Linked DNA regions of Homo sapiens: all the other regions are reported to be linked to region 1. The links are microRNA targets in miRTarBase. Many come from high-throughput screens and were not tested one by one. Region 1 holds a microRNA gene; each other region holds the end of a gene's coding sequence. Distances are from middle to middle.

Region 1 (4,063 bases):
TTCTGGTCTTTGCAAACTAAAAAATGACAACAGTTCTACCTGAAGCTTTGCAAACTGAAAACTGACAACAGTTCTACCTGAAGCTGTTTATTCTTATTTTTCTTTGACCATGCTTAATACACCAGACACTAAGTTTAATTTGAAGGACTGTCCATTATTTATTTATTTATGTATTTATTTTGACAGAGTCTTGCTCTGTCACCCAGGCTGGAGTGCAGTGGCACGATCTTGGCTCATTGCAACCTCCACCTCCCAGGTTCAAGCGATTCTCCTGCCTCAGCCTCCCAAGTAGCTGGGATTACAGGCATGCGCCACCAAACCCGTCTAATTTTGTATTTTTAGCAGAGATGGGGTTTTGCCATGTTGGTCAGACTGGTCTTGATCTCCTGAGGACCTCAGGTGATCCACCCGCCTCGGCCTCCCAAGTGCTGGGATTGCGGGGGTGAGCCACCACACCCAGCCAGGACTGTCCATTATTCTAAATGCGTTTGAATATTTTCTTTGAATGTTCTTTACTTTCTGAAGTTTGATGGATGGGTGGGTGTGGGGGGTGTGTGTGTGTGTGTGCGTGTGTGTATAGTATGGCCAATATAGATAGTAAATACCTATAGTGTTTAGATTTTATTTGGCAAAAAAGTCCTCGATAGCCCTCTGTGGGTCTCAATCTTTTTTTTTTTTTGAGACGAAGTCTCGCTCTTGTCCCCCAGGCTGGAGTGCGATGGCGCGATCTCGGCTCACTGCAACTTCTGCCTCCCGGGTTCAAGTGATTCTCTTGCCTCAGCCTCCTGAGTAGCTGGGATTACGGGCATGTGCAACCATGCCTGGCTGATTTTTGTATTTTTAGGAGAGGCGGGGTTTCACCATGTTTGCCAGGCTGGTCTCGAACTCCTGACCTCAGGTTATCTGCCCGCCTCGGCCTCCCAAAGTGCTGGGATTATAGGCGTGAGCCACCGCTCCTGGCCGACGTTTGAAATTTAAAAGATTGGAAACAGTAGATCTGAAATAGTTTTGTAAAGGAGCAAGACAATTATTACTCCTACTCCTAAATGGAGGATGGACCCAAGCATCCATCCATTAAACTGGACTACACTGAAAAAAAAGATTAGAAAAAGAAATGGAGGCCAGGTGTGGTGGCTCACGGGTAATCCCAGCACTTTAGGAGGCCAGGGCAGGAGGATTGCTTGAGCATGCGAGTTCAAGATAAGCCTGGGCAACATAGTGAGACCCCATCTCTATTAAAATTTTTTTTTTTTTTTTTTTTTTTTGAGACAGAGTCTCACTCTGTCACCCAAGCTGGAGTGCAGTGGCGTGATCTCGGTTCACTGCAACCTCCACCTCCTGGGTTTAAGTGAGTCTCCTGCCTCAGCCTCTGGAGTAGCTGGGACTACAGGCACGTGCCACCACGCCCAGCTAATTTTTTTTTTTTTGAGACAGAGTCACTCTGTCACCCAGGCTGGAATGCAGTGCCGCGATCTCCGCTCACTGCAAGCTCCGCCTCCCGGGTTCACGCCATTCTCCTGCCTTAGCGTCCCGAGTAGCTGGGACTACAGCTGCCCGCCATCACGCCCAGCTAATTTTTTTATTTTTAGGAGAGATGGGGGTTCACCGTGTTAGCCAGGATGGTCTCGATCTCCTGACCTCGTGATCCGCCCGCCTCGGAGATCCCAGCAGTTTGGGAGGCCGAGGTGGGCGGATCACTTGAGGTCAGAGTTCGAGAACAGCCTGGCCAACAGGGCGAAACCCCATCTCTACTAAAAGTACAAAAATTAGCTGGGTGTGGTGGCAGGCACCTGTAGTCCCAGCTACTCAGAAGGCTAAGGCATGGGAGGCTGAGGCACGAGAATCACTTGAACCCAGGAGATGGAGGCTGCAGTGAGCTGAGATCACGCCATTGCACCCCAGCCTGAGCGATAGAGTGAGACTCTGTCTCAAAAAAAAAAAAAATTGAAAAAAATGAAGAAATGGGAAGTAATCCAGGGAAGGATGATGTTGTATGAAGCTATTGTCTATAGGGTTTGAAAAGAAGGTGAGCACTGGGACTTAGGTAGAGCAAGGACTCTTGCTGTGAACAGAACTCTTCAGGGCCTTTCCACTGACTTTGTTTACACCCTTATGTCCTGGCAGGTTCTAGAGCCTTCTTTCCGCCAGGCCTTTCCCAATACCAACCGCTGGTTCCTCACCTGCATTAACCAGCCCCAGTTCCGGGCTGTCTTGGGCGAAGTGAAACTGTGTGAGAAGATGGCCCAGTTTGATGGTGAGTCTGAGGAGACTGGGAGGCATATGGCCAGGATCAGGGTCTGGTTTGCTCTGCATCAACCCCTTGATTTCCTGTCTTGCTTTTGGGTTATGGGGACCTGCAGAATGTAGGGTGTCAATGTGGTAGCTAATATTATGTGCAGTTTCGTGTACACTCATACCCTGACTAATTTGTATTACTATATAGATTTGCGATATAAAGTATTTGTTGCTGAGTGTGTTGTTGCTGGAGGACACACAGTGAACTGATGAGCAGTCTGGGGCCTAAGTTCCTTACTTGTCCCATTCGTCAGTTTCCTCTGTTACCTTGCTTGCTCTGTGTGGTTTTGGAGGGGTGTGGAAAGAGGCAGAACATTCGTTCACTTTCCTGCCTTCCTCTGCACCAGCTAAAAAGTTTGCAGAGACCCAACCTAAAAAGGACACACCACGGAAAGAGAAGGGTTCACGGGAAGAGAAGCAGAAGCCCCAGGCTGAGCGGAAGGAGGAGAAAAAGGCGGCTGCCCCTGCTCCTGAGGAGGAGATGGATGAATGTGAGCAGGCGCTGGCTGCTGAGCCCAAGGCCAAGGACCCCTTCGCTCACCTGCCCAAGAGGTAAGGATATTGGAGGGTGGAGGGTGTGGGACCAAAGAAGGCCTGTTCTCACCTCTGTATGTCCCCCCTCACACACAGCTAGAGCCAGAATTTTAGGTTGTCCATATAAAGTTAAAGGTATATTTTAGTTGCAAATAAAGCAGCTTTCTGGCTGATAATCAGGAATTGGGCAAATTTTGATTGTGGAGAGCAAGTTTCAAGTACAGCCAGTACTGGGGAAGATTGAACTCCTATTCCAACAAAGACAGGAACAGATTTTGATATAGTGGTAAGTTGGTTTTGAGCAAGCTCATTTGACCATTTGAGAGCTCTGAGAACAAATACAGGGAGAGGCGTGGGGAGGAAGAAAGTGCAGAGAGCCTTGCGGTGCGCCACGCGCCCGGCTGTGCGGAGATAGTGGATGCCAGAGCAGGGTCCTTTGAATTGTTTTGTTTTCTGTTTTGCTGAATCAGACTGTACAAAAATTGCTCACTAAGAAAAAGGATGAAGATCATAGCTAAGTAGTGTCTGTCTAGTTCATTGTTCCACAACCGAGTAAAGTCCCCAAGTAGAAGAAAGTAGGTGTCCTCTGTATCCCTTTTTCAGTTAAAGGTAGGGCTTCTTGGAAGAAATAATATAGTAAAAACGAGATTTTTGGCATGAAAAATGTAGGACGCTGAGTGCTTGCCCAGTTCTCTGGGATGGAGTCTTTCTTCCATCACTGCTCCAAGTCATTTTATTGGGAGTTCAAGCAGTTTGAGAAATATATATTCTGTGGTCACTTTGCTTTGGAACTCCTCTTTCTCTGTACTTTTTCCTCCCACTCACCCTGTCATTTCCAAAGCCGTTCATCTTTTTACTGCTTGGTCTGCTAGGGTTTACATTTCACCCTCTCCCATCTTGTAATGGCTTGGATACCGGGTGAACCAGCCTAAAGGAGCACCCACTGGTAGGGACACAGTAGCTGTGCATAGAATTGTGAATTACAAGCATTGCACTAATAGATGGGAGCAACTTGGGGTATAGCTGAAAGTTCTTACTCCCGGGTATTTTGTACAAGACCAGGAAGGCTCCATCCAGACACAGGCACTCTTTAAAGATGTATTTTTTGAACTAGTGATTTGCCTTGAATTTAGCACAGGTGCAGGTCAAGAGTGAGCAGGATTTTTGGTGTGTGTAAATAGGTCATGATAATTAACCCAAATTACATATTGTGTTGTAACTCAGACGTTGTTAA
Region 2 (4,063 bases), not on the chromosome of region 1:
CTCTGCTCTGTGTTCTTCTTCTGAAGGGTAGGGAGCACTTTCATCTGCCTTTCCCCTTCAAGTTACAGATGAGCAGCAGGAGGGCCGCTTTGTTTCTCAGTTGGAAAGAGGGGGTCTAAGCTCTGGCTTCCCAGAAGTAGGTGTCAGAAACTGGGGGCCGGACAGCCTATAGTTTGATCCTTCCCTATTGGGTGGGCTCCCTGTTTTCTGACTTGCTTCTCTCTTGCTTCCTCAGTGACAGCTCCACTGCCGCCCCTGAGTGGCCTGGCCCTCTTCCTCATCGTCTTTTTCTCCCTGGTGTTTTCTGTATTTGCCATAGTCATTGGTATCATACTCTACAACAAATGGCAGGAACAGAGCCGAAAGCGCTTCTACTGAGCCCTCCTGCTGCCACCACTTTTGTGACTGTCACCCATGAGGTATGGAAGGAGCAGGCACTGGCCTGAGCATGCAGCCTGGAGAGTGTTCTTGTCTCTAGCAGCTGGTTGGGGACTATATTCTGTCACTGGAGTTTTGAATGCAGGGACCCCGCATTCCCATGGTTGTGCATGGGGACATCTAACTCTGGTCTGGGAAGCCACCCACCCCAGGGCAATGCTGCTGTGATGTGCCTTTCCCTGCAGTCCTTCCATGTGGGAGCAGAGGTGTGAAGAGAATTTACGTGGTTGTGATGCCAAAATCACAGAACAGAATTTCATAGCCCAGGCTGCCGTGTTGTTTGACTCAGAAGGCCCTTCTACTTCAGTTTTGAATCCACAAAGAATTAAAAACTGGTAACACCACAGGCTTTCTGACCATCCATTCGTTGGGTTTTGCATTTGACCCAACCCTCTGCCTACCTGAGGAGCTTTCTTTGGAAACCAGGATGGAAACTTCTTCCCTGCCTTACCTTCCTTTCACTCCATTCATTGTCCTCTCTGTGTGCAACCTGAGCTGGGAAAGGCATTTGGATGCCTCTCTGTTGGGGCCTGGGGCTGCAGAACACACCTGCGTTTCACTGGCCTTCATTAGGTGGCCCTAGGGAGATGGCTTTCTGCTTTGGATCACTGTTCCCTAGCATGGGTCTTGGGTCTATTGGCATGTCCATGGCCTTCCCAATCAAGTCTCTTCAGGCCCTCAGTGAAGTTTGGCTAAAGGTTGGTGTAAAAATCAAGAGAAGCCTGGAAGACATCATGGATGCCATGGATTAGCTGTGCAACTGACCAGCTCCAGGTTTGATCAAACCAAAAGCAACATTTGTCATGTGGTCTGACCATGTGGAGATGTTTCTGGACTTGCTAGAGCCTGCTTAGCTGCATGTTTTGTAGTTACGATTTTTGGAATCCCACTTTGAGTGCTGAAAGTGTAAGGAAGCTTTCTTCTTACACCTTGGGCTTGGATATTGCCCAGAGAAGAAATTTGGCTTTTTTTTTCTTAATGGACAAGAGACAGTTGCTGTTCTCATGTTCCAAGTCTGAGAGCAACAGACCCTCATCATCTGTGCCTGGAAGAGTTCACTGTCATTGAGCAGCACAGCCTGAGTGCTGGCCTCTGTCAACCCTTATTCCACTGCCTTATTTGACAAGGGGTTACATGCTGCTCACCTTACTGCCCTGGGATTAAATCAGTTACAGGCCAGAGTCTCCTTGGAGGGCCTGGAACTCTGAGTCCTCCTATGAACCTCTGTAGCCTAAATGAAATTCTTAAAATCACCGATGGAACCAAACATGAGCTTCTGACTGTGTTCTTTCTTCTAGGAGTGGGTTTGGGGAAAGTTCAGGCCTTTATTCTGAGCAGGCCTTTTTTTTGAGCTTCAAGCCCATCAACCGTTGTTTTGCCTTCTCCTGGGTTGGAAAAGCCCTCAGCTCAGCTCAGAAGGAAAGGGGGTCACCTTGGCTAGGCAGAGGTCTCTGTCTCTTCAGGCTTTCTTTCCTTCCCATGCACTTAAACAGCACAGGCTATAGTGCTCTCCTGCAGGTGGGATTCAGGTGGAGGCATCTTCCTCCCACCTCCCCTCCACAATAGTAGAATGGCTCCAGGGTGCCAGAGGACAAACTGACCTAGAGCTTGGCCTTGGAGCAGGGAGAACTGAAAAAGAAAATGGTGGTTTTGTCTTTTTTGAGTTGAAGGGGAGATTGTATGGACCCGTGGGAGGACCTAGGTGGGCTCTTGAGATGGCCAAGGCAGCAGTGCAGGTGGAAGGGGTCTCATCAGAGGGGAGGGGCAGAGTGAGAGAGATGGAACCTGTAGGGTTTGTATGATTCCAGCTCATGAATACCTTGAGGCTTTTTAAAGAGGGCAGGGAAGACATGAAATGCAGTCCCCACCTGCCTTGGGGTCCTTTAGAGAAATGTATGGTGCAAGAAAACCACCTGACCTGGCATAGGATGCCCTGCTTTGGTTCTTGCTTTTTGTTCTAGAAACAAATGTTTCCCATCATGAATGGGTGGAATGTTGTCCTGGGCAGTGTCATCCTAGCTGTGCTAGAGGAGGGAGATGCCTGGTCCGTGGTAGGGCTGTTCTGTACATGCATGCTGTGGGTGAGAGCCAGTGCTTCGGCTTGCTGCTTACCCATAAGGGCCACTTCTCACAATCACCCTTTCCCTCCATTGCCCTCTGATTCCGAGCCTCTTAGCATGAAGAGACCCTGTGGACTAGAGGTGGTATATAAAGATGACATCACTCCCTGTCCCTGTGAGTCTTGTCTGAAGGGCTGGCATCTTCAGCCTTTCATGTTGTCTTCAGCGCCCCCAAATTACAAGATGGCTCTCTGTTATAGAACTTGTTTATTTCAGTGGAAAATTACAGCTCTGCTCGTCTTGTTGAAAGTGATTTCTGAACACAATAGCCAGAATATTCCTAGCATCTTGCATATATTCTAGAAGATAGAAACAAAGAACTGGTAGCCAGCCCAAGGGGAGGGCTGTTGGTAGCAGGAGGAAAGCCAGGCAGCATGGACTAATTAGTCTCCTGGGGCTGGAAGTTCTGGGAAAATATCACTCAGGTGATTTGTGGGTCCTGGGTGGAGTTTCCACTCATGGTCTATTGTAGGCTTTAGGTTTGGATCCTGGGTGGGAAGGATGGAAGAGCTGGCGTTGCTGGTGTTTAGTGAATTGATGATATTGAATATTTTAATGGGAGGATACAGCTGAAGTTGAGGTTTGATCCAGCTCATGGCCAAATAGTGCTAGAGAGAACAGACAACAGTTAGCCTGGGGTGGCAAGCTGAAGACGCTGTCCCCAGAGTCATCCCGAGACCACCTTTGTCCTTGCCCCCATGGCTGCCACTCACCGGAGCTGAATAGATGAAGTTAAACAGCATAAGTGCTATAATCGATATGACCATAAAGGCTATGAGTTTGAAGCGATAGCGTTTCCAGAAAATATAGCAGAAGTTTTGAACTGGTGACCGCAGCCACGTGAAAGAGGTGTTGGTGCGTCTGTCCAGGAGCCAGGGAGATGTCAGAGAATGGCAGGGAGAACCTTCAGGTCAAGTAATCTGATGCAAAGAGCTTTCTTTTTTAAAAAAGCAACTACTGGGCCAGGCACAGTGTCTCACGCCTGTAATCCCAGCATTTTGGGAGGCCGAGGTGAGTGGATCACCTGAGGTCAGGAGTTTGAGACCAGCCTGGCCAACATGGTGAAACCGCGTCTCTACTAAAAATACAAAAATTAGCCGGGCATGGTGGCATGTGCCTGTTATCCCAGCTACTCAGGAGGCTGAGGCAGGAGAATCGCTTGAACCCAGGAGGCAGAGGTTGCAGTGAGCAGAGATTGTGCCACCACACTCCAGCCTGGGTGACAGAGTGAGACAATTATCTCAAAAAAAAAAAAAAAAAAAAAAAGGCAACTTTTGCTTACTCCAACCCTCACCCCAAGTCTGTTCTTTGCTGATTGTAACTGAGCACAGAGCTGTGGGGTGGGAGGTAATTACCACCTCTCCATGATAGGCCCACTGGTCACCACCCCATACACACTGAGGAGCAAGAAAGATCTGGTGCTTTTGCCCCAAGGACCCTTACAGGGGAGGATGAAGTGTGGGGTACTGGTTGGGTTCCGACTGGCCTCGCCCGGCTGGCTTGAT
Region 3 (4,063 bases), 49 Mb from region 1:
GTATAACATACATGAGCCTTGAAAATATTACGCTAAGTAAAATAAGCCAGACACAGAAGGACAAATATTACACAATTCCACTTAAATGAGGTACCTAGAATAGGTAAATTCATAGAGACAGAAAGTAGAATACAGGTTACCAAGAGCTGAGGGAGTGGGGGTCGGGGAATGAGACATTATTGTTTTATAGGTACAGAGTTTTAGTTCGGGATGATGAGAAAGTTCTGGAAATTGATAGTGGTGATGGTTGCACAACATTGTGAACATTGCACAACATTGTGAAAATACTTAATGCCACTAAATTACACACTTAAAAATAGCTATAATGGGCCACACATGGTGGCTTATGCTTGTAATCCCAGCACTTTGGGAGGCTGAGGCAGGTGGACTGCTTGAAGTCAGGAGTTTGAGTCCAGCCTGGGCAATATGGTGAAACCCTGTCTCTATGAACAACAACAACAAAAAAGCTAAAATGGTAAATTTTATGTTATGTGTGTGTATATATATACATACATATATATATATATATATATATATATATATATATATATATATATATATGTATAGGTTTTTTTTTTTGAGACAGTCTCGCTCTGTCGCCCAGGCTGGAGTGCAATAGCATGATACTGACTCACTACAACCTCTGCCTCCTGGGTTCAAGAGATTCTCCTGCCTCAGCCTCTGGAGTAGCTGGGATTACAGGTGCCTGCCACCACGCCCAGCTAATTTTTGTATTTTTAGTAGAGACAAAGTTTCACCACATTGGCCAGACTGCTCTCAAACTCGTGACCTCAAGTGATCCGCCAGCCTCGGCCTCCCAAAGTGTTGGGAGTACAGGCATGAGCCACTGCGCCCAGCCATGTTATGTATATTTTACCTCAATTTTAAAAATGTGCTAGATACATAGGAAATAGAATAAGACATACGATATGTAAACTTAAAATATGTGTCTATAAAACAATATTTGTATTGTAAGAACATACAAATAAATTATTAGAATTAATGAGAACTCAAATTCTAAAACTGACCTAATGATGCAATACCGTTTCAATCAATATCCTAACAGTGTCATTTTATGGAGCAAGCTGATTCTAAATTTTATATGGAAATGCAAAAGTTCAAACATAGCTAATATTCTTGAAGAAAACAAGACGAAAGCATTTGATCTATTAGGTATTAAGATATAAAATAATAATAATGTAATAAAATTATCATAATTAAGATGGTGCAATTAAGGCATCATAACTAAGATAATACAAGGAATGACAATTAAACTAATAGAACATAGTAGCCCAGAAACAGACCTACATGTACATAGTTTATTTACAATAAAAATGGCATTGAATAGGAGTGAAAAAATTATGGTCTTTTCAATAACTAATGGTGGGACAACTTGATAGCCATTTAGAAAAAAAAAAGAAACTTCCTCACTACTGAGTAACAACATAAATTCTGGATCTATATCTCGAAACTAAAGTAACAAAGGTTTGAGAGGTAATATATGGGAGATAAAAAATATCTCCTTGCTTACGAGGACAACATATGGGCAGTATCTCTCAGTAATGCCCATATATTATAGTGTCTTCTTACACAGTAGATAAAAAAATAGGAAATACTAATCAGTTTAACCATATTAAAATTAAGACTGTTGATTTCCTAAGTTTACCAAACCTAAGCTATTCACAACCCTTTCTCAGTCTCTACTAGTTCCCTATTTTGACTCATTTTAAACCAGTTGGACCCTTATCTCAAATCCTTATAAATACCTTACTCTAACATCCTCCCTTTGAATCATTACCAAGACTCTGTGTCAAGTTGATGGTCTCCTTTGCTACACTACAATAGGTTTAATGAGCTTTGTTTAGTCAACAGGTTTCCTTAGTGACCTTTGTTGGGGGGGAGTAGACAATTGACAGTCCTTATCTTTTTGAGAAATATACTGAAATCTTTAAAAAAATTTTTTTTGGTAGAGATGGGGTCTTGCTATGTTGCCCAGGCTGGTTTTGAACTCCCAGCCTCAAGCTATCCTCCTGCCTCAGCCTCCCAAAGTGCTGGGATTAGGTGTGAGCCACTGTGCCCAGCCAGTATACCAAGATTTTTTTTTTCTTTTTCTTTTCTTTTTTTTTTTTGAGACGGAGTTTCGCTCTTGTCGCCCAGGCTGGAGAGCAATGGCACCGTCTCAGCTCACTGCAACCTCTGCTTCCTGGGTTCAAGCAATTCTCCTGCCTCAGCCTCCCAAGTAGCTGGGATTACAGGCGCCCGCCACCAAGACCAGCTAATTTTTGTATTTTTAGAAGAGATGGAGTTTCACCACATTGGCCAGGCTGGTCTTGGACTCCTGACCTCAGGTGATCCACCCACCTCAGCCTCCCAAAGTGCTGGGATTACAGGCATGAGCCACCGCACCCAGCCCACCAAGATTTTTATAGATTAAATTCTATTTCTAAGATCTGCTCCAAAATTAATTCAATAAGACAAAGTAGAAGTAGGTAAGATTAGTCATAAATAGTTGATGCTGGGTAATGATACATGGGAGTTCATTAGACTAGCCTGTCTACTTTTGTTTTACGTAAAATTCTCCATAATAATTTTAAAAAGTTACGTTTGTTTTTGTAGTCCTCAAGAGGGGATGTTCACTAAGGTCACAGCAAAGTTGCACTATACGACTCTGGCTTATACCCAGAAAGCATCTAGCCAAACCTAGCCTAAGTTATGCTAGATTCTGAGGTCTTGCTACGACAGAAGGAAGGGAAGACCACAGTGGTTGTAGACTTCAGAGAAATAATTCTTTTTTTTTTTTTTTTTTTGAGACAGAGTCTCGCTCTGTCACCCAGGCTAAAGTGCAGTGGCATGATCTCAGCTCACCACAACCTCCACTTCTCAGGTTCAAGCGATTCCCCTGCCTCAGCCTCCTGAGTAGCTGGGATTACAGGCGTGAGCCACCATGCTCAGCTAATTTTTGTGTTTTTAGTAGAGACAGTGTTTCACCATGTTGGTCAGGCTGGTCTCGAACTCCTGACCTCACGTGATCCACCTGCCTCGGCCTCCCAAAGTGCTGGGATTACAGGCATGAGCCACCGTGCCTGGCCTAAAATAATTCTTTTTAAGGCCCTTCTACAACACCCCAAATGTAGAACTGAGTTGCTGTATTAAATTTGACATTTAAATCTTGGTTAAAACAACAACAAAAAAAGGGATAAAGAATATTTACTGTGTTTTTTGCTTTATTTATTCAGAGAGTGAAACTGTGTTACAGTGAGCTAAATTTTTAGCTGTACTTAGAATGTGCTCCCTCCTACATTTCACTCTGGAAAAGTGAAGTATCTTATCATTTCTTAGAAACCTGGATGTGAAACTAGTCAATATTAAGATCTTATACACATCCTGAGTGATGCCCAATTTAAGGCTTTGAATAGCTATTCATGTAAGTTGACTTTTCTGTGCATTTGTATCGGGGAGGATCCAGTTCAGGTTGATGTCCTGGGAACCAGTGAGGCTCTCGCTTAAATCCTGAGGGAAGAAAAAAAAAGGAAGGAAAGACAAATGAAAACAGTCAACACTAAGGAGTTTTAGTAACTGATCTTGCTCTTATTTCTAGGGAATAGACAGTAAGTCCTGTTAAAATTGAAGAAAAAATCCTGTTTACTCATTCATGTAGTTATTCACCTTTTTTTTCTTTTTTTTTTTTGAGATAGAGTCTCACTCTGTCACCCAGGCAGGAGTGCAGTGGCTTGATTTCTGCTCACTGAAACCTCCACCTCTCGGGTTCAGGTGATTCTCCTGCCTCAGCCTCCTGAGTAGCTGGGACTACAGGCATGCGCCACCAAGCCCAGCTAATTTTTGTATTTTTTTTAGTAGAGATGGGGTTTCACCACGCTGGCCAGGCTGGTCTCAAACTCCTGACCTCAAGTGATCTGCCTGCCTCAGCCTCACAAAGTGCTGGGGTTACAGGTGTGAGCCACTGCGCCCAGCCTCACTTATTCACCTATTCAGTTTACTTTTATTTGAGTTCCTTCTATGTGCCGGTCACTGAGTTAGGTTCTGAAAATGTAAGAATTTGAAA
Region 4 (4,063 bases), not on the chromosome of region 1:
GCCATGGTGTCCTAACATAGCCAACCTAGCCATGGCTAACCTCCATGTCCTCGTCAGACCCCAGACCCAGACATCATCAGGTTTTGAACTCCCTTAGTCTGGCTCCAGAGCATGTGCCATAACGCAAAATTGCAAGGTTAGTACTGTCCAGTCCTTTGATCCGCAGCAGTGTGTGGAAGAGGCAGATAGAGGAGCATTTGAGTCTGGGTGTTTTTGGAGGCTTCTCATACCTGATTGGTCCCTATAATTATGAGGAAGAGAGGGATGGACATGGTTGGAGTGTAGGCATCAGCGGAAGTCAGATCCTGCCCAGACCAGCTCCCCATCCTCTGCCTATGCTATCAGCCTTGACGCACCCTTCCTCAGCACACTGGGCATCCAGGAGAAGTACCTGGCACCCTCGAACCAGTCAGTGGAGCAGGAAGCCATGCAGCTGTAGCAACAAGGTGGACCCTGGAGAGCAGGATGCATAATCCAGCACTGGGGAAAGTGGAGGCTCCTGATGCAGGCTGCAGACCCAAGAGCAAGTCCTCCCAGCCAGAGCTGGCGGGCTGGCAAGGGGATATTCAGCTCTGCAAAGGACTTCTGGCCAAAAAGCCAGACATGGTGCCAAGCAGAACACCCCCCATACTGTCAGTGGTGTCCGTGAGCTCTGGGCCCTGCCACCAGAAAGTCGAGCACTGGTCCTAGTCAGGCTGTGATGAAATGTGCTACAATACAAGAGTTTATTTTCTACTTTTTGTGACTTCCAAACTTTTCTTCAGTCTTCCGGGCCCAGGGGTTTGGGGAAGAATGAGGGAGTGTCACCTAGCCTTGGAATAATCAGTATTTCCCCAAAGCATATAATTCACATTCAGTCACATAGGATTTACATTCAGTCTCCAGTCATGTGTTTTTATTAATCTTCAGTTTTTGGTTCTGAGGTTTGTTTTTTAAAAGATGGGGTCTTGCTATATGGCCCAGGCTGGACTCAAACTCCTGGGCTCATGTGATCTTCCCGCCTCAGACGCCTGAGTAACTGGGACTACAGGTGTGAGCCACCATGTCCCACAATTTTCAGTTTTAACAGAGCCTCAAGCTTCAGCTTTCACAGGCAACACTTCCTAACTAGAACTTTGTTAATGTTTTATATTCACTGTATTTGTTTTATGGTTTTATTCTATTGTTGACAAGTGTTAACTAGTTTTCCATTTACAGTAGTGGTTAAAAGTTTACTTCAAGGCTGGGTGCGGTGGCTCACGCCTGTAATCCCAGCACTTTGGGAGGCCGAGGCAGGCGGATCCCAAGGTCAAGAGATCGAGACCATCCTGGCCAACATGGTGAAACCCCATCTCTACCAAAAAATTTTTTTAATTAGCTGGGCATAGGTGGCGCGTACCTGTAGTTCCAGCTACTTGGGAGGCTGAGGCAGGAGAATCATTTGAACCCAGGAGTCAGAGGTTACAGTGAGCTGAGATTGCACCACTGCACTCCAGCCTGGTGACAGAGCGAGACTTTGTCTCAAAAAAAAGGTGTACTTCAAAAATGAAATACAAGGCTGGGCGTGTTCACTCATGCCTGTAAGCCCAGCACTTTGGGAGGCTGAGGCGGGCGGATCACCTGAGGTCAGGAGTTCGAGACCAGCCTGGCCAACATGGTGAAACCCCTCTCTACTAAAAACATAAAAATTAGCTGGGCATGGTGTTGCACGCCTATAATCCCAGCTATTGGGGAGGCTGAGGCAGAAGAATTGCTTGAACCCAGGAGGCGGAGGTTGCAGTGAGCCAAGATTGTGCCTACATTCCAACCTGGGCGACAGAGCAAGACTCTGTCTCAAAAAAAAATAGTAAGTTGTGTAAAGAAAAATATTAATTATATAATATGGCAGTTCCTATGAGAGTGTGGCAAAAATCAAGAGGGCTTGGAAGTTTTTTCTTTGCTCTTGCAACTGGCTGGATGCAGTTCATATATTTTTCAACCAGTAGGTGGCACCCCAACCTAATTTTTTGCAGTTGTAACCTGGTGGCAGAAGGGGCAGGACTGATGGCTTGGGCAAGACTGTTATGCCAAGTTTTATTTGCATGTATTTGGACTTTCTTTTTTTGGAGACAAAGTCTCTCTCTGTCGCCCAGGCTGGAGTCCAGTGGCACAATCTCGGCTCACTGCAACCTCCGCCTCCCAGGTTCAAGCAATTCTCTGCCTCAGCCTCCCGAGTAGCTGGGATTACAGGCGCCTACCACATGCCCGGCTAATTTTTGTATTTTTAGTAAAGACGGGGTTTCACCATGTTGTTCAGGCTGGTCTTGAACTACTGACCTCATGATTTACCCGCCTTGGCCTCCCAAAGTGCTGGGATTACAGGCGTGAGCCACTGCACCCGGCCACATTTGGACTTATTAACACATATGAAGTGCTTGGTATTTTAGAGTGCTTCCACACACACAATCCTCATTAGAGATAGACAGGATGGGGAGAATTAATAAGCCATTGCCCGTGTTACAGTGAGGAAGCAGAAAGATGAGAAGTTTGAACTTTGGTCAGCCTGGCTTTCTCATAACCCATTTTGCTGACTAAATTGCGAGTATCCCTCCTTTGGTATATTTATTGGTGAGAAGTCACAGCCCTTGTCCCACAGGTTTTGCAGCCAATCAGGAGAAAGAAATTAGGCACCTGTAAAGTATTACTGAATCATAGATAGTTCACCAGTGGTTTGGGCAGTTGGCAAATTAATTTAGGGACATCTGTTCTGAAACAGCATTGAAATAGGACTGACTGCTTTGCTTTCTGGTTGTGGCAGCCAGAGCCAAAGGCAGATGAATGAGGGGCTATGAGGAGGCTACTGTGGCTGGAACAGTATGAAAGCAACCTCAGCTCCCACGCCTGGCTGTAAAGGGGATAATAACTGGGTGCTGCTTCCCAGCCTCTTTCATCTGAGAAGTTCAAAGCACCTCACCCCTATTAACACCCCACAGAGTAGGTAGGAAGTACCAATAGAGCAAGCCAGGAAAACTGAGGCCAGGAGGCACAGCCTGGGGCTAGCTGTGAATCACCTGTGGGGCCTAGAGCCCAGGAATCCTGACGCCCAGGCTACTGGACAAATCCTTTATCAGGGCATTAGGGTGGGTGCTATGCTTTTGAAAGCAGTACCAACGGCTGTGGTCGTGGGTTTTGATGCTTGCCACTCACAGAGGCCCCAGCTCTCACCATAACAAACCAAATGGGGGCTGGAAGGCATCCTTTACAACTTTATGGTCTCGTATGCAAGCACCCTCAGCATTCTCTGCACCCATGGAGTGGAGATGGGTGGGAGTAATCCAAGGCCTTTATTTTCAGGCCATGGTTTGACAGCAAGGGTATTTTCTTCCCCAATAAACGTAGCTTCTGTCTACCTTCCACTGGCAGCAAAATGATTTTCTGTTCTCTGCATATACTGAGGGGATCTGCACAGTGCAGAAAGGAAGATGTCCGAGATCCAAGTGAGGCCTGTTCAGTGTGAAATGTCTAGGGTAGAAGAAAGACCATCCTCCATTATGGCTGGCATGTGGCAGTCATCCTTAAGATTATTTTTAAATTTCCTAATAAATATAGGAAAGTAAAAAACTTAGAAAATGAAAGAGAAGGCCGAGCACGGTGGCTCACGCCTGTAATCCCAGCACTTTGGGAGGCCAAGGCGGGCTGATCACCTGAGGTCAGGAGTGTAAGACAAGCCTGACCAACATGGTGAAAACCTGTCTCTGCTAAAAATACAAAAAAATGAGCAGGGCATGGTGGCATGCGCCTGTAATTCCAGCTACTTAGGAGACTGAGGCAGGAGAATCGCTTGAACCTGGGAGGCGGAAGTTTCAGTGAGCGGAGATCGCGCCATTGCACTCCAGCCTGGGTAACAAGATGGAAAGTACATCTCAAAAAAAAAAAAAACGAAAATGAGTCACCCAGAATCCCATAACGGAAACTTTCTATGGGGTCATCTGTTTAAGAGAAAAATAAATTCTATATTCAAATGTATATTTTGTGTATTCTCTTTTTTTCTCATCTCTGTAAATACCTGGAGATATTTTATGTATTCTTTCAGCCTTATTTTTAT
Region 5 (4,063 bases), not on the chromosome of region 1:
TCCTGTCTTCCAGGGGAGCAAGGTCTCCCCTGGGTTCACACGCTGGACCCCACCAGGTCAGCTGGGCCCTCAGCTGAGACAGGGAGAAGGTGACAGCTGGCTGGGGGAACCCTGCAAATCAGCCCTATGTGAGCAGGTGTTCATTGCCCATGCCAAGACCAGGGACAGCTTGAGGGCATGAGAGAGAGTGCTGGTGGGACAGACACACAAAGGCCCTTTGTTGCAGCCAGGGCAGCTTCCTGGAGGGATGCCTTAGAGGCTGACTGCTCCCTGAAGGGGCTGGAGTAGGTGCATCCCAACACAGAACTGGTGGCCCCAGCACGAGGAAAAACCACTGTGTGCCAGGGTTGAATGTGGCTTCCGAAGCCCGAACTATAAGGAAGCAGCCAGAGAGGTGGGGCACCTGGGCGAGCCTCTGCCCAGGCCATGTTTGCAGTAAGTCATGGCAAATCGTGAATTGAGAGGTGGTTCTCAAAACAGCCCTAGTGACCACTTCCCTGACCACCACCCCCACCCACCAAATGCCAGTGACTGCACAGATGGGCCCTCTTTCTCCTACCCCAAGTCTCCTCACTGCAGGGGAACCCCTGGGGTGAGCCTGTGAGGTCTGCCCCTCCCCCAGCATGTATAGAACAGCTCACAATAATTACGCATTTAACACACATTTCCTCCTCTATGAGTTGGGGACATTAAGAGACCTTTCCTCCAGCATTAGGATTAAGTCAGACAAAGCACTTAAAGCTGTAAGCACTGAGTCCTTGGTTCTGCACAGAAATCCCCAGGCCAGTTCAAAGTTGTTGGGCGCACCCTGGCAGGGCAATTACCTCACAGGGTAGGGGAATCCAGAGAGGTGGGCAGGACAGGTGGCGCTTTGATTAGCCCTGCCTTCTCCTCCCTCCTCCTGTGGCCAGAGGCAGGCAGGAGGGCCCCAGGCAGCAGTCCCGCCTACCCTTCGCCCCTTCTTCAGTCTTGCACGCCTCCAGGGCTGGAAAGCTCATTCTTCTTCTTCCTCCCAGCAGCTCTGCCTGGAAGTCCCCCAATCCCTGTGCTCCTGCCCCCAGATCGTGGGCTTGGGGGACAGCAAGAAAGCTGCAAAGGACTCAGCTGGGGCGGCTCCACAAGGACCCCACAGGCTTGAGGTGTTGCCAGGATTCTATCCCAGGGGGTTTTCTGGGTCCCCCAGAGCCCTCTCAAGCACGGGGAGGCAGAAGGGTCCTCGCCCATTTCAGGAATCTGCAGCCTGGAAGCCACAGCCATGGCAGGCCCCCGATACCCAGTTTCAGTGCAAGGGGCAGCCCTGGTGCAGATCAAGAGGCTCCAAGTAAGACCTGGCTGGGTCCTTAGTGGCCCCAAGGGATAGGAAGGGGGTGCCTGGACCAGCACCTCCACGGCACTCCCAACTTTTTGTCCCCCAGACGTTTGCCTTCTCTGTGCGCTGGTCAGACGGCAGCGACACCTTCGTGCGCAGGAGTTGGGACGAATTCAGGCAGCTCAAGGTGAGTGACCCTGGGCCACCCTGATGCCGCGGTGGCGGCTTCCCCACGCGGCTGCCTCCCACTGGACTGCCTCCCATCAGTGACTCCCACTGGAGGCCCTTCGTCCCTGCTGAAGCTCCCAGCCCCTGCCATCCGGGTGAGGGACCCCGCCCTCTCAAGGGTGCACAGTGGGCTCTGGAAGACCAATGCCCTGGTTCCCGCCCTCAGAAGACCCTCAAGGAGACCTTCCCGGTGGAGGCGGGCCTGCTGCGGAGATCTGACCGCGTTCTCCCAAAGCTTCTCGGTCAGGCCAGCCTGGGTACGGGAGCGGGGAAGGCGGTGGCTTGCCTGGGGGCGCCAGGGACCAGTGAAGCCCAAAGCGGCGTATCACAGTACGTTTTTGTGGTGCCTTAAGATGCACCACTGTTGGGACGCGTGGGGCGCACGAGCCGCGGCCTGGCGCGCCTGCAGCTGTTGGAAACCTATTCTCGGAGGCTGCTGGCGACTGCAGAGCGCGTGGCACGGAGCCCGACGATCACTGGCTTCTTCGCACCGCAACCCCTGGACCTGGAGCCCGCGCTGCCACCCGGCAGGTGCCTGACTCGCCCCAAACTCCCAGCATGCAGCGGCGTTTGGAGCTGGGAGAGGTCCAGGGTGGGGGGGAACAGCCAGCGAATAGGGGCAGAGAGTGGGAGGCTGGCGGTCTTGCCGGGGTGGCGCCCCCAGTTTCACCCTCCCCATCCGCCTACCTCTCACTCGTACGGGCTGCCCTTCCCAGCCGGGTGATCCTGCCCACCCCAGAGGAGCAGCCTCTTTCTCGCGCTGCGGGCCGCCTCTCCATCCACAGTCTGGAGGCTCAGAGCCTGCGCTGCCTGCAGCCCTTCTGTACCCAGGACACGCGGGATAGGCCTTTTCAGGCGCAGGCCCAGGAGAGCCTGGACGTGCTGCTGCGGCACCCCTCAGGTAGGGCCCCCCAAGAACCCAGGGATTTGCTCCTCTGCTCCTGGACCCGAGGGAGCCTCGAGATTTGAGTCCCTGCCCGCTTCTTGCGCACAGGCTGGTGGCTGGTGGAGAACGAAGACCGGCAGACCGCCTGGTTTCCAGCGCCCTACCTGGAGGAGGCGGCCCCGGGCCAAGGCCGGGAGGGAGGCCCGTCCCTAGGGAGCAGCGGTATGCGCCTAACCCCACCCCTCACGCCACCACTGCGGCTTGACCGTGTGGCAAGACTGGGCCAGAAGCACCGCGGGCAGGGCGGGCCAGGAGCCCGTGCTTGGTCTCCGCACCTAGAGGAAGCCCCGAACCGGTCTTAGAGCGGCCCCGCCGTCAGCAGACTCAAGCAAGGAGAATGTGGAGAAGGGTGCGGGCGGGCCTCGTCCTCTGTGGCCCCGCGGTGACTCCAAACACCCACTCCCACCAGGTCCCCAGTTCTGTGCTTCCCGCGCCTACGAGAGCAGCCGCGCAGATGAGCTGTCCGTGCCCGCGGGGGCGCGCGTGCGCGTGTTGGAAACGTCAGACCGCGGCTGGTGGCTATGCAGGTACGCGGGAGCGGGCGTGGGCAGGGCAGGCTAGCCGAGGCGGGCGGGGCCCTAACCACACCCCGCCCCTCGCAGGTACGGCGACCGGGCGGGCCTACTCCCCGCGGTGCTGCTGCGGCCGGAAGGGCTGGGCGCTCTCCTGAGCGGGACGGGGTTCCGTGGAGGAGACGACCCGGCGGGTGAGGCCCGGGGCTTCCCTGAACCCTCCCAGGCCACCGCCCCTCCCCCCACCGTGCCCACCCGACCTTCGCCGGGCGCCATCCAGAGCCGCTGCTGCACCGTCACACGCAGGGCCCTGGAGCGGCGCCCACGGCGCCAGGGCCGCCCTCGAGGGTGCGTGGACTCTGTGCCGCACCCCACGACGGAGCAGTGAGCGCGAGGATCCCGATGAGGGGATGGACCGCGCCATCCCAGGGCTGGGGAGGAGCGGGGAGGGCGGATCTCCCTGGCCAGCAGGGATGGGAGGGGGCCATTTGCTGTTCCTCTGAGTAAAGCTTGTTCTGCATGACCCCCACCGTCTAAGCGTGCGGAGCCGCGGGCTGGATCTCTGCCAGGCCAGGGTGCGGGATGGGCGTGGCAGGGCCGAGACCATCAGCTCCAGTGCCCTTCTGGCTGGCTAGGTAGGGTGTTGGCCAGGGTGGGGGGCTGGACTGCAGTCCAGAGAGACAGAGCCGGCCAGGAGAGCGGCCTTTATGGGTTTTCCAGGGGTTCAGGATGGACTGGAGAGAGGCCGGACCGGCTAGGGCAGTGCGCCTTTATGGGTTTCCCAGGGGGTGGGGGCGGCGGCCGGCACAGGGAGCTTCATGTTGTGCCACAGGAAGTCCAAGAAAGCGGCGGCCTGGAGGGTCCTGCTGAGCCGCTGAAAGTGCCGCTCTGGGGTTGGACAGAGGGAGGTCAGGGGGGTGGTCCACACGCCCACCAGGATCCCCCAACCCCAGGCTGTGCCCACATACCAGTGTAGGGCAGCAGGGCCTCAAGCGCTGCCCGCACGCCTTCGTAGGCCAGCAGCTCCTCGGGGGCCTCTCGCCTCAAGAGCACACCCAGCACGGCCTG
Region 6 (4,063 bases), not on the chromosome of region 1:
TGATGCCTGGTGGCTTCCTCTCTCGGCAGCTAGTCCCTGAGCACGTCGTCATGACCAAGGAGGAGGTGACAGAGCTGCTGGCCCGATAGTATCCTTTCCAGCCCCACCGGCCCCGCCCCTCCCTGTCCCTCGAGACTTCCGCGTTCCCCCCCCACACACACCCCTGCCCCCCCAACGGCCCTGTCTGGCATTTTCCTGACGGTGCTTCGCAGTAAGCTCCGAGAGAACCAGCTGCCCAGGATCCAGGCGGGGGACCCTGTGGCGCGCTACTTTGGGATAAAGCGTGGGCAGGTGAGCCCTGTGGGGAGAAGGGGCCCTGGGGCTGCTCTGAGCTGACCACTCGGAGAAGGGGGCTTCTGTCCCTCCCCGACAGCCCCTCCCCCTTGATCCAGGGCCTGGAGGGGACCTCGAGACCACACCCCCAATATCCCCCTCTTAAAGCCAGGGCCACTGGGCCCAGAGAAGAGCGTGACCCAGGTTCCCAGGGAGCGGGTCCCACAGCCCAGGGTCAGCCATCTCGGACCCCTGCCGGCCATCCCCAGCCCGTGTGCTGCCCGCCTGCTGTCTGGTGACTGCAGTGAGACCCCTCAAGCATTCGCAGCCCCTGCTCTCTGTCTCTGCAGGTGGTGAAGATCATCCGGCCCAGTGAGACGGCTGGCAGGTACATCACCTACCGGCTGGTGCAGTAGCTACCGCCTGACAGGTGAGACGGCCGAGGGACAGGCACTGAGGTGGGGTCAGAGGCAGGGGTGTCGTCCCCTCCGTCGGTGTGCAGGGCTGTTCTTGCTTTGTCCGGCAGCAAGACCCTCCTAGCACCAGCCCAGCTGGGCCACCAGGCGCTCCCAGGACACCCCCAGACCCCCAGACCCCACCCGACCGTAGGCTGCAGCTCTTGGGGCTGTGCGCCTGGACGGGAGAGTCCTGGTACGCGGGGCGTGCGTCTCTCCGCCGCTGACCCACCTTAGAAGCAGGAGACGTTCACCTGCAGGGCAGTTGTGCGGCGGGACTTTCCAGAAGAGGGTTTAGAAACCTGCCCAGAGACCCCAGAGCTGAGAGAGGAGGCACAGCTTCAGGCCAACCCTTCCCTGAGTGGGCACCTTGGGAGGGACTGGCCGGAGTCTCAGGAGCGGGACAGCCTCTGCCCATGGCGAGAGCCTCCCAGCTTCCCCTGGACTCTGGTCATGGCGAGCTGCTGTCCTGCAGGCCGCCCCACTTCACACTCAGCCCAGGGGTGGGGCTTGGCCTGGTCTGACGCTGGCACGGTTCCTTTGAGGTCAGAGCTACTGCCCACGCCTGTGTGACCGCTGGGCACAAGGGAGCCGTCCGGCCTCTGCACTGCGGCCTGGGCCGCCTCCTGCCAGGCCTCCCGCACCCCGTCACGTTCGGTGGGCGTTGTGCTGTCCTGGGCATACTGGATCTGCCCCTGTCGTGTGACCACTCTCCCCCTTTCCTAGCCCCTAGAGGCGGACACACAGCGACCCCCATCCCTGCAGGACAAACGCCCCTGCCCTGCCAGAATCCGGCCCCCACAGCTCTCACGGCTGCTGCTCCTCTGGACTCCCCAAGGCAGGTGGCCTCCACCCACGTTCTCCCGTCCTGGGGTGAGGCTTCCTGTGGCCCAGCCCGCCCCATTCACCTGTGGATTTGTGCGAGATGCAGCCTCAGAAGGAACAAGGCCCCCAGAGGGAGGTCACCTGGGGGCAGCTGGTGCCGGGTCTTCACCCAGACCACGCTGGGTCCCCTCTGTTGGGGGTTTGGGGTCCGGGTCTCCCACCAGCCACTGCTTCCTCCTGGGCCCTCGGCCTTCCACCCCTCGTCTTCCCTCCCTCGGGGGCCCTGATGCGTGGCGGCCCCCGCCCGGCCTCGGCTCTTTACTCCATTCACAGCCATGCACGCGCTCAAGCCACCAGGGTGCGAGATGCCAGCTCTGGAGTTCTCGGTTGTTGTAGGAGGTTGGGTGTTTTCAAATGGTAAAGATGTTTTGAGCAAATAAATTTGCTTGATACAGAAACCAGGCCGACTAACAAGGTTTCCAGCAGGTGGCCTTGCCTCACCCCAAGCACACGAGGTCAGCCTGGCAGGTGTGCCCTCCTCGCGCTGGCTTCAGGGGTCAGTGTCTCCCCAGGCCCTCGCCCTGCCCTCCCACTTCGTGCTCCTGGGTAAGGCGTGAGCGTGTCTGTCTCTTCCCTTCCCGTGAGGGTGTGGAGTTGTTCTCTGGCTTGTGCAGCTGTGGTTTGCGGCCAGTTCCTCTTACAGACGTTTGGGATCTGGCTCTACTTCCCCGTTTGCTTACTGTCTGATTTCAGAAGGCCTCGCCTGCCCAAGTTTAACCTAGCCACGTGGTTCTCTCACAGTAGCTTTATTAAGATGTAATTCACCCTCGGGCGGTCGGTGGTCTGTAACGCGCCCACTGTTCTGTGCAGCAGGGTCCCCAGATCCCCAGGCCGCGGACTGTGTGTGTGATGGGGACAGTGCTTCCCCTTCTCTCCAAATGTACTTTTTTCAAAATTGTCTTGGCCAAAGCAAGCCAGACCCAAAGGGACAAACACTGATGTCACTCCTAGGAGGTCACTAGAGTCGTCAGAGACTGGAAGTAGGATGGGGGTTCCCGGGACTGGGGAGTTGGGTGGGGATGGGGGTTCCCAGGGCTGGGGAGGAGGGAGGGGACAGAGTGTGTCATGTGCACAGTTTTAGTTTGGGAAGATGAGAAAATTCTGGAGGTGGCCGGGCGCGGTGGCTCACGCCTGTAATCCCAGCACTTTGGGAGGCCGAGGTGGGCGGATCACCTGAGGTCGGGAGTTCGAGACCAGCCTGACCAACATGGCAAAATCCCATCACTGCAAAAAATACAAAAATTACCTGGGCGTGGTGGTGCATGCCTGTAATCCCAGCTACTTGGGAGCTAAGGCAGGAGAATCACTTGAACCCAGGAAGTGGAGGATCGCTTGAGCTCAGGAGTTAAAAGACCAGCCCGGGCAACACAGAGAAACCCCCCACCTCTACAAAAAACTTTAAGATTACCTGGGCACAGTGGCTCACACCTGTAATCCCAACACTTTGGGAGGCTGAGGCGGGAGGATCATTTGAGCCCAGGAGGCCGAGGCTGCAGTGAGCTACGATTGTGCTCCTGTACTCCAGCCTGGGCCACAGGGTCACACCCTGTCTCAAAAAAAAAAAAAAATGCAGTTCCACAGGCGCATGGGCCACGTTTCCAGTGCTTGGTGGCCATGTGGGGCTGACGTGCGAAACCTTAGAGCCGGGGGATACGTCCGTCATCGAGAACGTTTTCCTGGACTGCCCTGGGCTGCAGGTGGACGTGACGAGGTCATTCGATGCCTGACCGTCTGCACAGCCTGTGGTGAAGACCACCCGGGCTCCCACCTCGCGGGGCCCCGTGGCGGGGGGTTCCCTTCCTCACACATCCCTCCCCTAGGGGGAGGCCCAGGGCCACGCCACGGGGCTCTCTCTGTCCCCTCCCTGGCCCCTTCTTCTAAGCTTGCAGCTGCCACAGAAAATCTTCTAAGCTTGCAGCTGCCACAGAAAACACCCGATTAAAAACTTTTTATTTCAGCAAAATAAACGTGCCTGTGAAAGAACCACACGGTGGCTTCCGAGAGACCCCACTGTGTACCTGAGCCCCAGGTGGCCACACCTGGTGTTCTGGAAAAGGGAGTCCAGGGCCAGTATTCAGGCCCTGCTGTACTGCACCCTGGAAACTGCACCAAACCCCAGCTCCGCCCCCATCCACGGCTCCCAGAATGGTTTCTGGAGTCCCTGCAACAGACCTGTGAGGAGAGGGCAGGGCAGGGCCTGCCTCCTGCGTCCCCGTGATGACCTGGGGGATGCACTGGGCAGGGACAGCTTCCTCCATCCACACAGCCCTGTGGGCACCAACAAGGCCACTGTGACTTCACACGACAGCAGTGTTCCCCAGCTCAGCTGAGCCGGGGTGCAGGGGACAGCACAGGGCACAGTCCTGTGCCGCAAGGCCCTCGTGCTCCTGGAAGCCTCTGGGAGGAGGCGCCCGCTGGTGGGACGTCGAAGTCCAGGCGCTCTCGGCAGC
Region 7 (4,063 bases), not on the chromosome of region 1:
TTTTCATTTACTGTATCTTCCAGATGTTTTCAGATCAGTTCCTACAAGAGGAGCCACATTTTGTTAAGTGGCCTTCGACTTCATTGTATGGATGGATTTGTCTATTCAACCAGGACCTTACTGATAGATATTTGGACTGAAAGGAACCCACAAATGGCACGAGGCAGAGGAAGCCAACAGGCCAACAGACTGAAGATCTTCTTGTCCGAGGTCAGCTTTTATTTGTTACTGACAGAGGCCCCAAATCCTTCTTAGGTGTCCTTCTGGGAGAGGGTCTCCTGCCATTCCCGTGGTGTTCAGGGATGAGCATGAAGAGAAATACAAATGAACCGAGAGCAGGACCACCAGGTTCAAGTCCCCGCTTTTTACTGCCTTGTCATCTTGGCCAAGCCATTCAGTCCTTCTAAGCCTCAGACAATATGACAAATGAAGCTAAGTCTGCCAATCTTCACCCACAGGGATGTGGGGAGGCTCAAATGAAAGCAACCGTGTGATACTGTGGGAAGTTAACAACAACAACAAAAAAGCAAGTATGTGAAAATACTCTAAAAATAAAATAATGTACAAATGGATAGTGACGCTACTCAGTAATGTTTCCAAAATGGAAGGGGATTGGTGAGAAACATAATAAAGAATGGGATAAATTTAAGAAGAGTGTGGTTTCCCAGAAATCAGGACAACCCTCTAACACACTAGGGGGTACCATGATGTTTATAATCAGGGCAGTGAAAGACTCTAAAGTACTTAGGCAACAGCTACTCAGCTTGCTAATCCTATCTCCTGCTGGGCCCACACAAATTCCTAGCGGTCCACAGGGACATAGTAGTTGAGGGCTCTGATAGTTGAGAAGTTACATTCCTCTAATTTAAAACTGAAAATAACGTCAGACTAAAACTGCCCACTCATCACTCCGGCACAGTAAGCTGCTGGTTTACACTCTCCCTACAGCAGAGCAAGTGAATTGACCCAGACATCATTTTAATTCATGGGGGTTAGTGGACCCTACACCTTTCTCTCCCTTGGTTTTCCTTCTTCATGGACGTTAATATTTCGCCCCCTGAAGGAAAACAGAAATACTATACTGAAAATACTGAAATTCCTCTGGGACGGATTCAAAACCCAGGCAGCATCTATCTGTTAGGCTACAATGGAATAAATCTAGATCTTGTCAATCACCTGTTGACTGCGCCAACTGACAGGAATAATGGTCTTCTGCTGGGTCCAATGATATTCGGACTGTTGAAGGAATATGGCCAGGGAATATTATCCCAGGTTCCAGCCAGGGTTGGCCTGGCTTAGCTATCAATATCAAGGCAGGCTCAAGTATTTCCAAGCATGCTTTTAGTGCAGAAAGACACATGGGGCAGGGGAAGGGGAAAAGGGTGGCGAGCAGAGCTAGCAGTTTATCTCTATGGTGGGATGGGACACGTCTCCGGAAAGACAGCAGAGGGTTTGGTAGAGGGAAGCAGAGATCCTGAAACGACATGAGATCTTTGTTGTAAATAACGTCTTTCTGGGTCTGGCGTGGTGGCTCACGCCTATAATCCCAGCACTTTGGGAGGCTGAGGTGGGTGGATCACTTGAGCCCAGGAGTTCGAGATGAGCCTGGGCAACATGGTGAAACCCCATCTCTACTAAAAATAAACAAATTAGCCAGGCACAGTGGCACGGGCCTGTAGTTCCAGTGACTCGGGAGGCTAAGGTGGGAGGACAGCTTAAGCCTGGGAGGCAGAGGTTGCAGTAAGCTGAGATCCCACCACTGCACTCCAGCCTGGGTGACAGAGCCAGATCCTGTCTCAAAAATAAGAAATAAAAAAATAAAAAAAGTCTTTCTGGGTGAGGCTGTTTTTGTGGCTGATCATTTAATAATCTGCTTAACTATATATCCATACCTGCCTTTGAACTTTAAATGTGGTCCTGAAAAAAACTGAGGAGAGCAAGTCAACTTTTTTACTTTTTATTTTTCTAAAATTAATACATGTGCAGTCAAGCCATGTATAAATGAAAAGTCCCCTTCTCTTCAAAAGCAAAACTTAATACTTTCTGATGTTATTCTTCAAGAAATTTTCCAATCATATACAAGCATGTATATATATATTTCCTTTTCTAAACTCAAATGGAACTCACCTTTTAAATGTGAAAAATTGTCTGTATTTAAGAGAATATTATAAATGTATTGTAAAGAGGACATCAACTCCAAATTAAAATTCTTTGGATTTTTTATTGGATTCACATAAAGCAAAGAACTTACTCACTTGGACCGAGAATATATTGTAATGTTCCATAAGTCATAACTTAAGGACCGAGAATATATTGCAATGTTCCATAAGTCATAATTTAATGTGCAGTAAGAACCCATGAAGTTGTCTGACCAAAAGTAACACTCTTCTGTTGGGAAAGATTTTACATCCTTTTATTCTGGATGAATCCTGAATTCTAGATGTTGGGTTTAATGCTTCACACAATGGCACATTTACAAGAGGTACAAAACACTTATTGAGCTTTCAGGGCCACTGTAAGGGGCTTGCAGAATAGCCTCTTTGCAACCCAGAGAATTAATCTGATTCCTCTTTCCTCAGCCCACGCCTACCTCCAACTTCAATTTTACAGGAGTAGTTTCCCAAGAGTCCCCACCCCCTCCATTTGCAGAATTAAGGAAGTGGAAGGACTGGAGAGTTCAGTGTGGAAAAACGTGTGGAGTAATCTGCTTGAGACAACTGTGTTTTAGAAAAATTCAGGCTGAAGTGTGGTCTCATGTCTATGTGGCTCTCCATGAACTTTTTTTTTTTTTGGTATTTTGGCAATACGGTCTTGGTCTGTTGCTCAGGCTAGAGTGTAGTGGGACAATCATAGCGCACTGCAAACTTGAACTCCTGGGTTCAAGCAATCCTCCTACCTCAGCCTCCCAAAGCTCTGGGATTACAGGTGTGAGCCACTGTGCCCAGGAACTTTGAAGGTAAGGTTCATCAAATTCTCTTGGTGACCTCCCTTTACTGAATGAAGAGGTGCACTCTGTTGTAGTACATGCTTTTTCCTTGTGGCTCTTGGGGTCCAGTTTTTTTGCTTTTTTTTTTTTTTGAGATGGAGTCTCGCTCTGTCACCTGGGCTGGAGTGCAGTGGCGGGATCTCGGCTCACTGCAATCTCCGCCTCCCAGATTCAAGCGATTCTCCTGCCTCAGCCTCCCAAGTAGCTGGGATTACAGGCGCCCGCCACCACGCCTGGCTAATTTTTTTGTATTTTAGTAGAGACGGGGGCTCACCATGTTGGCCAAGCTGGTCTCGAGCTCCTGACCTCAAGTGATCCACCCACCTCAGCCTCCCAAAGTGCTGGGGTTACAGGTGTGAGCCGCCGAGGCCGGCCATTTTTTTGCTTTTTGAAAAATAATTTTGATTGGTCCCTCACTCACAGAGGACTCCAGAAGCCAGGGTCTGTTGCATCCATGAACACCGCTCCATGCGACTGGGAGCTCCGCCCACCACACCAACGCTGGCTCGCTGCTTTTCCAGCACTGGAAACTTCCACAACAAGGGATTCTTGGGAAAGGCAGTGGCTCAGACTACCTTCCACCACCACTTGCATCTGTCAGAGCGTTTTAGAAACCCTTAAAATTCAAACATTTCTGCTGGCTTCTCTTTTAGCTTCCTAACTTTTCGGTAGCCCTTTATGGCCAGGACAGCCCCCAGGGCAAAGACCACAATGCCCAGGGCAGCAAAGATTCCAGCTCCTATATCTGCTCCGTGGAAACTGCAGCCGAAACCGCTGTAGCCTTTGCTTTGGTACAGCGCCTGCCTCTCTTTACACACAGGAGAGCCATAGGCAGCAGAGAGGTAGTGGAAGTAGAAGTACAAGGCCGGGATGTACCCCCCCGCGATGAGCATGTCCAACAAGCCTTCGGTCACCAGCAACAGTGGACAATGCCACGGGACCCGCAGGACACCCATGGCAACGAAGAGGCAGCAGAGGGCTGTGAGGGCTCCACTACAGGCCATTGCCACAGTGACCATGGGCAGCTTTAGCTGGTAGAACTGGACATCCAGTTGCTGGGCCTTCTCCCCGTCAGCA

The links. The annotated mature microRNA hsa-miR-6747-3p reads UCCUGCCUUCCUCUGCACCAG and lies in region 1 at 2,622-2,642, shown strand. An mRNA with a match to its seed (bases 2 to 7 or 8) in the 3' UTR can be bound and repressed. Matches are read on the target gene's strand: a 7mer-m8 pairs with bases 2 to 8, a 7mer-A1 pairs with bases 2 to 7 and ends in A, and an 8mer does both.
Region 2: the mRNA of LMAN2L is a reported target of hsa-miR-6747-3p. The part of its 3' UTR that is shown has no 7-base or 8-base seed match.
Region 3: the mRNA of CFAP68 is a reported target of hsa-miR-6747-3p. Seed matches in the 3' UTR shown: 7mer-m8 at 3,034-3,040, 7mer-m8 at 2,899-2,905, 8mer at 2,221-2,228 and 8mer at 2,029-2,036.
Region 4: miRTarBase lists GPN2 as a target of hsa-miR-6747-3p. Seed matches in the 3' UTR shown: 7mer-m8 at 1,270-1,276, 8mer at 1,406-1,413, 7mer-A1 at 2,013-2,019 and 8mer at 3,785-3,792.
Region 5: miRTarBase lists TBL3 as a target of hsa-miR-6747-3p. Seed matches in the 3' UTR shown: 7mer-A1 at 2,262-2,268, 7mer-A1 at 1,050-1,056 and 7mer-m8 at 881-887.
Region 6: the mRNA of POLR2E is a reported target of hsa-miR-6747-3p. Seed matches in the 3' UTR shown: 7mer-m8 at 1,565-1,571 and 8mer at 2,906-2,913.
Region 7: miRTarBase lists MARVELD3 as a target of hsa-miR-6747-3p. Seed matches in the 3' UTR shown: 8mer at 3,169-3,176.

Annotation. Positions count from the first base shown.
Region 1 is chr11:62,565,590-62,569,652 of GRCh38, reverse strand. It overlaps MIR6747 (microRNA 6747), which reads left to right and starts at 2,582; the gene lies at 2,582-2,642. It overlaps EEF1G (eukaryotic translation elongation factor 1 gamma), which reads left to right. Exons shown (of 10, transcript NM_001404.5): 6 at 2,125-2,254; 7 at 2,643-2,847.
Region 2 is chr2:96,703,571-96,707,633 of GRCh38, reverse strand. LMAN2L (lectin, mannose binding 2 like) reads left to right here. Exons shown (of 8, transcript NM_030805.4): 8 at 236-1,705. The coding sequence ends at 378. It overlaps FER1L5 (fer-1 like family member 5), which reads right to left. Exons shown (of 53, transcript NM_001293083.2): 51 at 4,002-4,063; 52 at 3,272-3,419; 53 at 2,751-3,166. The coding sequence ends at 2,942. Among named protein-coding and RNA genes, the nearest start is that of LMAN2L, 34 kb to the left of the region's middle.
Region 3 is chr11:111,883,218-111,887,280 of GRCh38, reverse strand. It overlaps CFAP68 (cilia and flagella associated protein 68), which reads right to left. Exons shown (of 4, transcript NM_022761.3): 4 at 1,306-3,510. The coding sequence ends at 3,401. Among named protein-coding and RNA genes, the nearest start is that of CFAP68, 5.7 kb to the right of the region's middle.
Region 4 is chr1:26,876,053-26,880,115 of GRCh38, reverse strand. GPN2 (GPN-loop GTPase 2) reads left to right here. Exons shown (of 5, transcript NM_018066.4): 5 at 367-3,984. The coding sequence ends at 439. GPN2-AS1 (GPN2 antisense RNA 1) reads right to left here and starts at 3,982. Exons shown (of 2, transcript NR_199049.1): 1 at 3,806-3,982; 2 at 1,871-1,998.
Region 5 is chr16:1,978,372-1,982,434 of GRCh38, reverse strand. It overlaps TBL3 (transducin beta like 3), which reads right to left. Exons shown (of 22, transcript NM_006453.3): 21 at 3,964-4,063; 22 at 1-3,883. The coding sequence ends at 3,750. NOXO1 (NADPH oxidase organizer 1) reads left to right here and starts at 966. Exons shown (of 8, transcript NM_172167.3): 1 at 966-1,321; 2 at 1,416-1,496; 3 at 1,704-1,779; 4 at 1,891-2,068; 5 at 2,254-2,438; 6 at 2,532-2,645; 7 at 2,893-3,010; 8 at 3,086-3,518. The coding sequence starts at 1,256. The coding sequence ends at 3,383. RefSeq lists enhancers at 990-1,049, 1,526-2,105, 2,106-2,683, 2,684-3,263, 3,264-3,843 and 1 more and silencers at 1,913-2,207, 3,000-3,119.
Region 6 is chr19:1,086,112-1,090,174 of GRCh38, reverse strand. It overlaps POLR2E (RNA polymerase II, I and III subunit E), which reads left to right. Exons shown (of 8, transcript NM_002695.5): 5 at 30-88; 6 at 213-291; 7 at 624-703; 8 at 1,455-3,601. The coding sequence ends at 689. ARHGAP45 (Rho GTPase activating protein 45) reads right to left here. Exons shown (of 23, transcript NM_012292.5): 23 at 3,547-4,063. Among named protein-coding and RNA genes, the nearest start is that of POLR2E, 7.2 kb to the left of the region's middle. RefSeq lists enhancers at 1,120-1,219, 3,786-4,063.
Region 7 is chr16:71,634,344-71,638,406 of GRCh38, reverse strand. It overlaps MARVELD3 (MARVEL domain containing 3), which reads right to left. Exons shown (of 3, transcript NM_052858.6): 3 at 1,942-4,063. The coding sequence ends at 3,604. LOC124903711 (a long non-coding RNA gene) reads left to right here. Exons shown (of 2, transcript XR_007065108.1): 2 at 24-572. Among named protein-coding and RNA genes, the nearest start is that of MARVELD3, 10 kb to the right of the region's middle. RefSeq lists an enhancer at 372-923.